Homo sapiens: one gene and its partner. The protein of the gene in region 1 purifies or fractionates together with the protein of each later gene. This does not show direct contact. Each region holds a gene or a part of one and is shown on either strand. Other genes may lie near its edges.

Evidence for each region. The genes of interacting proteins can lie anywhere in the genome.
Region 2: the proteins of TBPL2 (region 1) and TAF8 purify together in Homo sapiens (co-immunoprecipitation; one large-scale study listed by IntAct). This does not show direct contact.

The regions. Positions count from the first base shown.
Region 1 is NC_000014.9:55,426,757-55,431,598, reverse strand, and holds part of TBPL2 (TATA box-binding protein-like 2), read left to right. Parts: intron 1-2,624; coding exon 2,625-2,792; intron 2,793-4,842. UniProt on the Homo sapiens protein: Transcription factor required in complex with TAF3 for the differentiation of myoblasts into myocytes. The complex replaces TFIID at specific promoters at an early stage in the differentiation process.
Region 2 is NC_000006.12:42,066,887-42,071,728, reverse strand, and holds part of TAF8 (transcription initiation factor TFIID subunit 8), read right to left. Parts: intron 3,265-4,842; coding exon 3,122-3,264; intron 383-3,121; coding exon of another isoform or gene 261-382; intron 1-260. UniProt on the Homo sapiens protein: The TFIID basal transcription factor complex plays a major role in the initiation of RNA polymerase II (Pol II)-dependent transcription.

The sequences.
Region 1 (4,842 bases):
TTAAAGTGATTATTGGACAGTTGTGCAAGATGTCTGTAATAATGTTCATTTCAGCAATAGAACAGGGAAAACCTAATTAATAATAGGGTTTCAATTTGAAGTCATAAAGTAAAATTGTATTAGCCATATAGTACACATACTGAGCTGAAAGGATGGTCACATTGTATTAAGTTGGATTGCAGAGGGAGAAGTAAGCAGCTAAATGGTGTTTGTTATCCAACTTTCATTGTAAAATATGCTCATGTTACACATATTACACACATTCATGAGTGTCTTTTCTTATCTGAATTTATTCCTAAAATCTGATAGTGAAAGTTTGGATAATGAGTTCAGATAATAAGAGATACTTTTTATCCAAATATATTTGGTTTTGAAGTTTTGGATAGTGAGTTGTGAGAATTTAGTTAATAAGAGGTGCCAGTATTATCTCCACATTTTATCCAAACCTATTCTCTTTTGTTGTAACAGCAAGAGTATGAGGGATACCTGTGTTTGCGTAGGAAAAGTGCAGAAGATCAAATTTAGGTAGTTAACACCAGTATGGGTGAGATTTTAAGATTTTTAAACTACTTTCTAATGTTTGTACAATGAACATGTATATAGACTTTCAACTATTAGTTGTTTCAATAGAAACTTCTGTGTCCTTAGAATATCACAGCTGATATCCCAAGAAACTACAGGACTATGCAAACTTGAACAAATTTGAACTTATTTACATTACGGGAAATGTAATAGATTAGTTAGGCAAAATGTAGTTCAAAATGGAAACAGTTTATTTTACTGCTAACCTGGGGACATGGCCTTGCTAAGGACATTTCAAGAGTGAGAAGTGGGTGAAGAGAGCCAAGGGCAGTGCTGTGCAGCTGTAGTCAATCTAGTGAGTAGATACCAGATCAACAGATGGCCATGTGCAGTGGCTCACACCTGTAACCTCAGTACTTGGGGAGGCTGAGGTTGGGAGGGTCACTTGAGTCCTGGAGTTTGAGCCCAGCCTGGGCAAGACAGCAAGACCCTGTCTCTATAAAAATTTAGGCAGGTGTGGTGGTGCATGCCCCTGCAGGCTACTTAGGAGGCTGAGGCAGGAGGATCACTTAAGGCCAGAAGTTCAAGGCTGCAGTGAGCTATGATCATGCCACTGCACTCCAGCCTGGGTAACAGAGCAAAAACCCAATCTCTTTTTTTTTTTTTTTTTTTTTTTTTAAAGTGGGTGAGGAGAATCAACATTAAATGAGGTGACACATGTATGTAGTAACGAATACCCAAGAGGGGGCAGTGTTGGTGAAGGATCTGGATAAGAGAATCAAACACTTGCTTTAGTCCAGGCAAACAAGTTCAAACTGGCTTTTCTTTCAGGTGTTTCTGATTTACAGCCTAAAAATAGGGCCAAACCCATGAGGGGGGTGGAATTCACCTGATTCACCCTGCAGGTGTTGCTACCTACTGTTTTGTTTTGTCACTAACAGTTGAAAAATACCTAAGGAGAAATGAAGCCTCACCTCTCAGGACTCCACAGGCTCTGCTATGAATTTAGGGGTGCAGCAGGACAGACACTTAAAGGACATAGCCACAGAGTAGGACAAATTCCTGTCCTTCTTGTGTTGAGTTTGAATTGAATTGAAGATTGGGTGAGAAAGCCGAGCAAAACAAGGGGGGTTTTGAGGTATTTTCATGTGGTTGTTTTGGACAGTGTGTCCAATAAAGACTCAAGAACTGATACCTTGTCTGTGCCACTCAATCAGCACATATCTTACCTCCTTATATGCGATTTTTTTTTGTATGCATGTGTCCTTATTTTTTCTTGTTGTTTTCTTTTTTTTTTTTTTTTTTTTTTTGAGACGGAGTTTCACTCTTGTTGCCTAGGCTGGAGTGCAATGGCGCGATCTCAGCTCACTGCAACCTCTGCCTCCCAGGTTCAAGTGATTCTCCTGCCTCAGCCTCCTGAGTAGCTGGGATTACAGGTGCCCGCCACCATGTCCAGCTAATTTTTTTGTATTTTTAGTAGAGACAGCGTTTCATCATGTTGGCCAGGCCGGTCTCGAGCTACTGTCCTCAGGTGAGCTGCCTGCCTCAGCCTCCCAAAGTGCTGGGATTACAGGCGTGAGCCACTGTGCCCAGCCATTGTTCTCTTCTAAATGGGACATACTTTGAGACTGGATGAATGGTTCCCAAACTGCAGTGAGCAGCACAGTTACCTAGAGGGCTTGTTAAAAGACAGATTGCTCGGCCCCACCCCCAGAGTTTCTGCATGTCTGAGGTGGAACCTGGGACTTTGCATTTCTAACAAGTTCCCAGGTGAAGCTGCTGGTCTGGGGACACACTTTGCGAATCCTTGGAATCGTTTTAGCAAATAACACCCAAGTAAAAGTAAAAGTACTTCATATATGAAAGGTGACAAATGAAGACAAAAATTTATGATTCTGTTCAACAGCTGTACAATTTTACAAGACCTTTTATAAGGTGCTAGGGACGAAAGTATGGGAAGTAAGTCCTCCTCACAAAGCCTACAGCTTCATAGTATACATTGAAAGATAAACGTGGTACAAATGGTAACAATCCAATACAACACCAGTAGTTGAGAGGATGTAGCGATTAAGACATCTTTAAACATATTTGCCCCTCCCCAGTGAAGAGCAGTCTCGACTTGCAGCAAGAAAATATGCTCGTGTGGTGCAGAAGCTTGGGTTCCCTGCCAGATTCCTCGATTTTAAAATTCAGAACATGGTTGGAAGCTGTGATGTGAGATTTCCCATCAGGCTGGAAGGTTTGGTGCTAACCCATCAGCAGTTCAGTAGGTATGACGGTTATATAGCTTGAACTTTGAATTTACCAAGATATTTAAGTTACATTATGGGTTGCTTACGTAAAGTATCTTTCAGAGAAATTGTGATTAAAAAAAAAAAGGCGGGGGACACAATAGTGAAAAGATTAAGATGCTATGCCTGAGTTCTCATAGGTTACCACATGTGCCCAGTCTTTTGAAACCATGGTTCTTAAACTTACATTGCTTAGCAATCACTTAGCTTATTAAAGCACACATCTCTGGCTGGGTTTCTTCACCAGAGATTTTGCTAGAATTTGTGTTTCTAAAAAGCTCAAAGGTGATGACAGTGCTACTGGTCAGAGGCCCACACATTGAGATCCAGTAATCTACAGATTTGTAAGCATACAAACGTAGCTTGGCAATGACACTGGCAAGATAAGGCATGTGTTGGGAGGCCGAGGCAGGCGGATCACGAGGTCAGGAGATCGAGACCATCCTGGCTAACACGGTGAAACCCTGTCTCTACTAAAAATACAAAAAATTAGCCGGGCGTGGCAGCGGGCGCCTGTAGTCCCAGCTACTCGGGAGGCTGAGGCAGAAGAATGGCCAGAACCCAGGAGGTGGAGCTTGCAGTGAGCCGACCTCGCGCCACTGGACTCCAGCCTGGGCGACAGAGCGAGACTCCGTCTCAAAAAAAAAAAAAAAAAAAAAAAAAAAAGATAAGGCATGTGAAATGGACTAGGCCGGTAGGAAGGGGCTTGACAGCTGGTGAGGGGAGAATGGATTGGGGAGAAGATGAAAAAAGAATGCTGTAGCACGTTCTATGAAAGCAATCCTGGGAGGCTGAGGCAGGAGAATGGCGTGAACCCGGGAGACGGAGCTTGCAGTGAGAGATCGCGCCACTGCACTCCAGCCCGGGCCACAGCCAGACTCCGTCTCAAAAAAAAAAAAAAAAAAGCAATCCTAACTAGTTTGTCCCCTATCTGTGTGTGTGTGTGTGTGTGTATATAGCTGCAGCCCGCAACACAATGTTGCCTGTAGTATATTCCTTTTCCTAGGGAATATCTCTAGCCTTCCTGACTTCAGACTTCCCGTCTCAACAGCTAGTGCTCCTCCCCCGCCCCCAGCCGTTTTGGTGGCTCTCCCATCCCAGGCCCTCAGAGAGCAGGGATGGAGGGTGACTCATGGACACCAAACCCCTTGACTCACCAAGATATACACCTGGGCTAGGGCACTTGGCCTGGGTTAATCACAGATGCTCTTAAATTCTCTTGGCCAAGCTGGAACTGAAGTTCTTTCATTCCAACGCCTTATCTTCTCTTGGCCATCGAATGATTATCCCGTCAATAGAGTAGATAGGGATCATATTGCTGTGCTTTCCCTAACATTTGTTAGCTTTCCTTTCAGATATGATCTGAATGGAAGTTAAAAATTCCTTTTTCTTCTAAAATATTTTCATTCATTCTGAGATTCAGCTTTTATGATATGCTTATTTTTCTTTTGACATGTTTATTTTTCTCTTGATTATGTTTTCTTTTTTCTTCAGTTTTTTCACTGTATGCTATTGAATGCCTAAATATACCCCATTTTTTAAAAATCTGAGCTCCCTATAAAGTCCTCCCATTCCCCCATGTAAGACATGTTGCCTCTTTAGGTATCTTTCTTCCTTCAATCTTGGCATAATTTGCAGATTTCCTAATAAAGCCTGTTTCTAAGAGTCTCCCAGTGCTTAAGTTGTCTTATCTTCCAGACTCTCAAGTCACGAGCCTCCAGCCTATCTTTCTCTGAATCGGCTTAGTGTACATCTGCAAGAGCTCTGCCCGAACTCTAAGGTTGTGTCTACATTAGACTTAGCATTCCCTTCTGGCCATTCAGGGCTCGAAAATGATGTGTGTGGTTCTTCCCAAGTGTCCATTCATTTCTTTTTCACCAGCATCTTCCTTGCAGAGCAGATCTAAGTCTAGAATAGGTGCCCCTTGTTATTACTACCAGCTTCTGGAAGGGTTGCCAGTAAGGCGCAGTGAGAATACATCAGACGGAGTGGGCCCATCCCTGTTCTATCTTCCTCCTGGGACAGTTTT
Region 2 (4,842 bases), on another chromosome or scaffold:
GAAGCGTACAATAACAATTTCCTCTGCTTTATTTAAAGCCATGGTCTCCCAGCCCTAATTCTGAAAGGAATAATTCAATATTTAAAAAAAAAAAAAGTATATCCAGGCCGGGTGTGGTGGCTCACGCCTGTAATCCCAGCACTTTGGGAGGCCAAGGAGGGTGGATCATGAGGTCAGGAGTTCAAGACCAGCGTGACCAACACGGTGAAACCCCGTCTCTACTAAAAATACAAAAATTAGCCGGGCGTGGTGGTGCGTACCTGTAATTCCAGCTACTCAGGAGGCTGAGGCTGGAGAATCGCTTGAACCCAGGAGGCGGAGGTTGCAGTGAGCCAAGATCTTGCCACTGCACTCCAGCCTGGGTGACGGAGCGAGACTCTATCTAAAAAAAAAAAAAAAAAAAAAAAAAAAAAAAAAGTATGTCCAGGCAAATAAGACCTTCAGCAAATAGAGATGACACAGGCATATTCCACTAGCAACCCAGGGTGGCTGGCTGCCATTTGGGGTATCACATCTTAGAGAACATAAGGGATGCTCAGTCCAACTACAGCCACTAAGGCATCCAAACTAGTGCTGATTTTAAAGGATGGTTGAATATGGCAACCTGACTATATAACCCTATTAGCCTTAAGGGCATTCCAGCTTCTGGCGGTTCTGCGATTGTACTTGGCACTTTCTCCAAGGGTGCAGGAACAAGAGGGGGCTCTTATCCTTTCACTCGCTGAGTATGACACACCGGTGAGCAGAAAAGAAAGTATACCCTAAAACAAACTAGGACTAGAACACCTCCTTGCCCACCTTTGTCTCTGAACCCACATGTTGTCTCCTATCCTGGGTATGAAATGTCCAGAAGAAGGCTAGTCCCTCCATTTGGTCACGGGCCCATCCCCTCTCGTCTACCAAATGACATCATTCCCAGACTTTTCTTTCTCTCCTGTATCCATTTTCCCTTTTGACTAGATCATTCCCAACAGCATACAAACACGTTATTTCTTTTATCTTAAAAAATAAAAACACGAAACACCTCTCTTAATTCCTTCATTTTCCCCCTTTTAGTTACCACTGCATCACTCTCCCTCCCTGTACTGCAGGAACACCACACGACTTTCTGTGCCAATGGAAATGTTCAATATTTGCACTGCCTAGTAGAGCAGCCACTGGCCGTATGTGGCTATCAGACACTTGAAATGAATGTGGCTAGTGAGGTTAAGGAACTGATTTTCAGTTCTTTTCTTTTGAGACAGAGTCTTGCTGTGTCGCCCAGGCTGGAGTGCAGTGGCGCGATCTTGGCTCACGCCAAGCTCCATCTCCCAGGTTCACGCCATTCTCCTGCCCCGGGCTCCCAAATAGCTGGGACTACAGGCGCCTGCCACCACGCCTGGCTAATTTTTTTTTTGTATTTTTAGTAGAGATCGGGTTTCACCATGTTAGCCAGGATGGTCTCGATCTCCTGACCTCGTGATCTGCCCACCTCAGCCTCCCAAAGTGCTAGGATTACAGACGTGAGCCACCGCGCCCGGCCTTTAGTTTTATTTCATTAATTTAAATTTAAATACCTACACGTGGCTAGTGGCTGCTATAAGGGACAGCACAAGTCTATACTCACTGACTCCTCTTCTCTCCTCCCATTCTCTCTGAATTTACTCCAGGTCTTCGCTCTCATTCTTACTGAAATGGCTCTCATCAAGGTCACAAATGACATCCACACTGCCAGATCTAATGGTTGAATTCTCAGTCCTCCTACCATTGGAGCCACCCACAGCTTTGGACACAGCTAATTGCTCTTTTCTCCCTGAAACACTTACTTCCCTTGGCCTCCAGGACACAGCCCTCTTCCAGTTCTCCCACCTCCATGCTGGTTCTTCCTCATCTCTTCAAGCTCTACACACAGCAACAGCTCCAGGACTCAATGTGCCTCCTCTTCTTATCCTCACTCATCCCTGGAAGAGCTCATCCACGCTCATGTTTTTAGACACGACCTACAGGCTGCTGGCTCCCAAATACGCATCTCCTGCCCTAACTGCTCCTCAAACTCCAATTATATATCCAATTCTTCACCTGACATCACCGCCTGATGTCTAACAAGCATCTCAAACTTAACACATCTATGTTTAAGACACGAACATCAACTCCTGACTTCCCCCACACACCTGTTCTACCCGGTGGTTGTTCCTATCTTGGCTGAAGGCAATTCCATCTTTCCTATTGTTCAGGCAAAAAACCTTACCGTTTTCTTTAACTCTCATATCTACTCTATCAACTGGCTCTGCTCTGAAAGTGATCTAGAATCTGACCAAATGATCTAGGTGACCACATCTCCTTATTTTTGCTCCTCCTACCATCTCTCAGTTTACTGTGACAGCATCCTAACTGGTCTCCCTGCTTCTGCCTGCCCTCTATAGCCCATCCTCAGCACAGCAACCTGACTGACCCTGTTAGCAAACCTACCTTGGATCCTGACCCTCCTCTGCTCAACATCTCCAGTGGGTCCACCTTACTGAGTAAATGGCAAAGTGTCTAATCTAACCTTTAAGACCCTGTAAGATCTGACTCCCCGTGGGCCCTCTCGGACCTCATCCCCTACTGTTCTCCTCCTTGTTCACTCCACTCTGGCCACCCTGATGTCCTTGCTGTTCTTCAATACAACAGGGGAGCTCCTGCCTCAGGGCCTTTGCATCTGCTGCCCCTGCTGCCTAGAATGGCTCCACCCCCAGACATGTCCATGCCTTGTTCCCTTCCGGTCTTTACTCAAATGCCCCCTTCTCGGTCACTCTACCTAATACTGCATCCCTCCCATTCCCATCCCCACTTCCTATCTCCTCATTTATTATTTTTCATTAGCCCCATGAGGACAGGGAATTTTGTTTATTTGGCTTCCTACTAATATCCCAGCACCTGGAACTGTATTTGTTGAATGAACGAGTGAATCCCCAGGACACGGATGTGTCTCTAAGCAGGAGATTGGGTCACATCTGGATCATCACGCAAGCCCTTATGCAGGCCCCTAACAGAAAGCCAAAGAGACCTGAGGTCGATCATGTCCAGGTCCCAGGGTGACAGACTGAGGGCAGTGTGCGACAGTTTGGGGGATACTCTGAGGTAGGCAGAAGGTGGAACCCACCATGCTGATATGAAGAGCAAGGTTCTCTGTGTCTGTCTGTTCATCCTGCTCCGAGGAATCTGTCTCTTCCATTTGTTGCATCTCCAGTTCAGACGGAAGAAGAGCTGTCAGGTAGGGGATGGTGAAAGGTCTGGCAGCAATCACTGGCGAATTGGAAGAGAGGCATGAGTCCACTGTCACAGAGACCTCGCAGCTGGCTTAGAGTCCTAGAGCCTCACAACAAATCAGTGAGCAGCACCAGAAGATAATACTAGCTAACTCGCTCCAAGTACTTACACAACAGGCCAGGCAATGTTCTACGGGCTTTACTCATGTTATCTTTCATCCTTGCTCCCATCCTATTAAGTACGATTAGGCACAGAGAGGTGAAATGACTTTCCCAAGCATGCTAAAAATGGCAGAATGGGATTCTAACTCAAGCAGCATGACTTCAGAATCTACTTTTTGCCAAGTACAACTGAGATAAGATGGAAATGAGGCTATAGATAGAATCCTAGCAACACATAAGTTTTGAGATCCTGCACCCAAGGTCAGTTAAACCCCTCTAAGCTTCACTTCCAGAGCAGGAATATTGATTCTTTTACCCTGAAGGACTCAAGTCCAAAGGCTGGATTTGAGCACTCTGCATATATGCATGTCCACTGAGCTGTAAGACACTCTGGTCAATGAGAGTTCTAGCTCTTCCAAAAAGCAATGAGGATGAGAGGAAGAAATTGAATAAAAAATAACATTAAAAGAAAGAAGGCCGGGTGTGGTGGCTCATGCCCATAATCCTAGCACTGTGGGAGGCTGAGGCAGGAGGACTGGTTGAGCCCAGGAGTTTGAGACCAGCCTGGGCAACATGGTGAAATCCCGTCTCTAGGAAAAATAAAATTAGCCAGGTATAATAGTGCATGCCTGTAGTCCCAGCTACTAGGGAGGCTGAGGTGGGAGACTCATTTGAGTCCAGGAGGTCCAGGCTGCAGTGAGCTGTTTGTGCCACTGTACTCAAGACTGGGCGACAAAGTGAGATCCTGTCTCAAAACAGAAAAAGAAAAAGTCTCTGTGTGTACTTCTATGGTAGAATGTGACTGTTAGAAAATACTCTAGAATTGGCTGGGTGTGGTGGCTCATGCCTATAATCCCAGCACTTTGGGAGGCTGAGGCAGGCAGATCACTTGAGCTCAGGAGTTCAAGACCAACCTGGCCAACTGGGTGAAACCCCGTCTCTACTAAAAATACAAAAAATTAGCTGGGTGTGGTGGCTCCTGCCTGTAGTCCCAGCTACTTGCTGAAGCAGAAGAATCGCTGGAACCCGGGAGGCGGAGGTTGCAGTGAGCAGAGATTGCGCCACTGTATTCCAGGCTGGATGACAAAGCAAGACTCTGTCTCAAAAAAACCCACAAAAACTCCAGAATTATTTTTGCTGTGGGTCAGATGTGGGGTCCTGCAGTAAGAGCTAGGTTTGAATGATGTCTACTAGCCATGTTCCTTGAGGAAGTGACTTCATTTCTCTTCTCTTGTGCCTCATTGAAGGGTTCCTATGAAGGTAGTGATATATCAGTTCCCAACTCAGAGGCTCACAAGAGGATTTAATGAGATAATGTATGGGAAATGATGAGCACAGTATCTGGCACTTAACAACCGGCAGCTGCTGTTATTCCAGAGCCAGGCACACAGCGGGCGTTCCACAGGAGCTTGCTGAATGAATGAATCACCCAAACCAACCTCCCTCACTCACA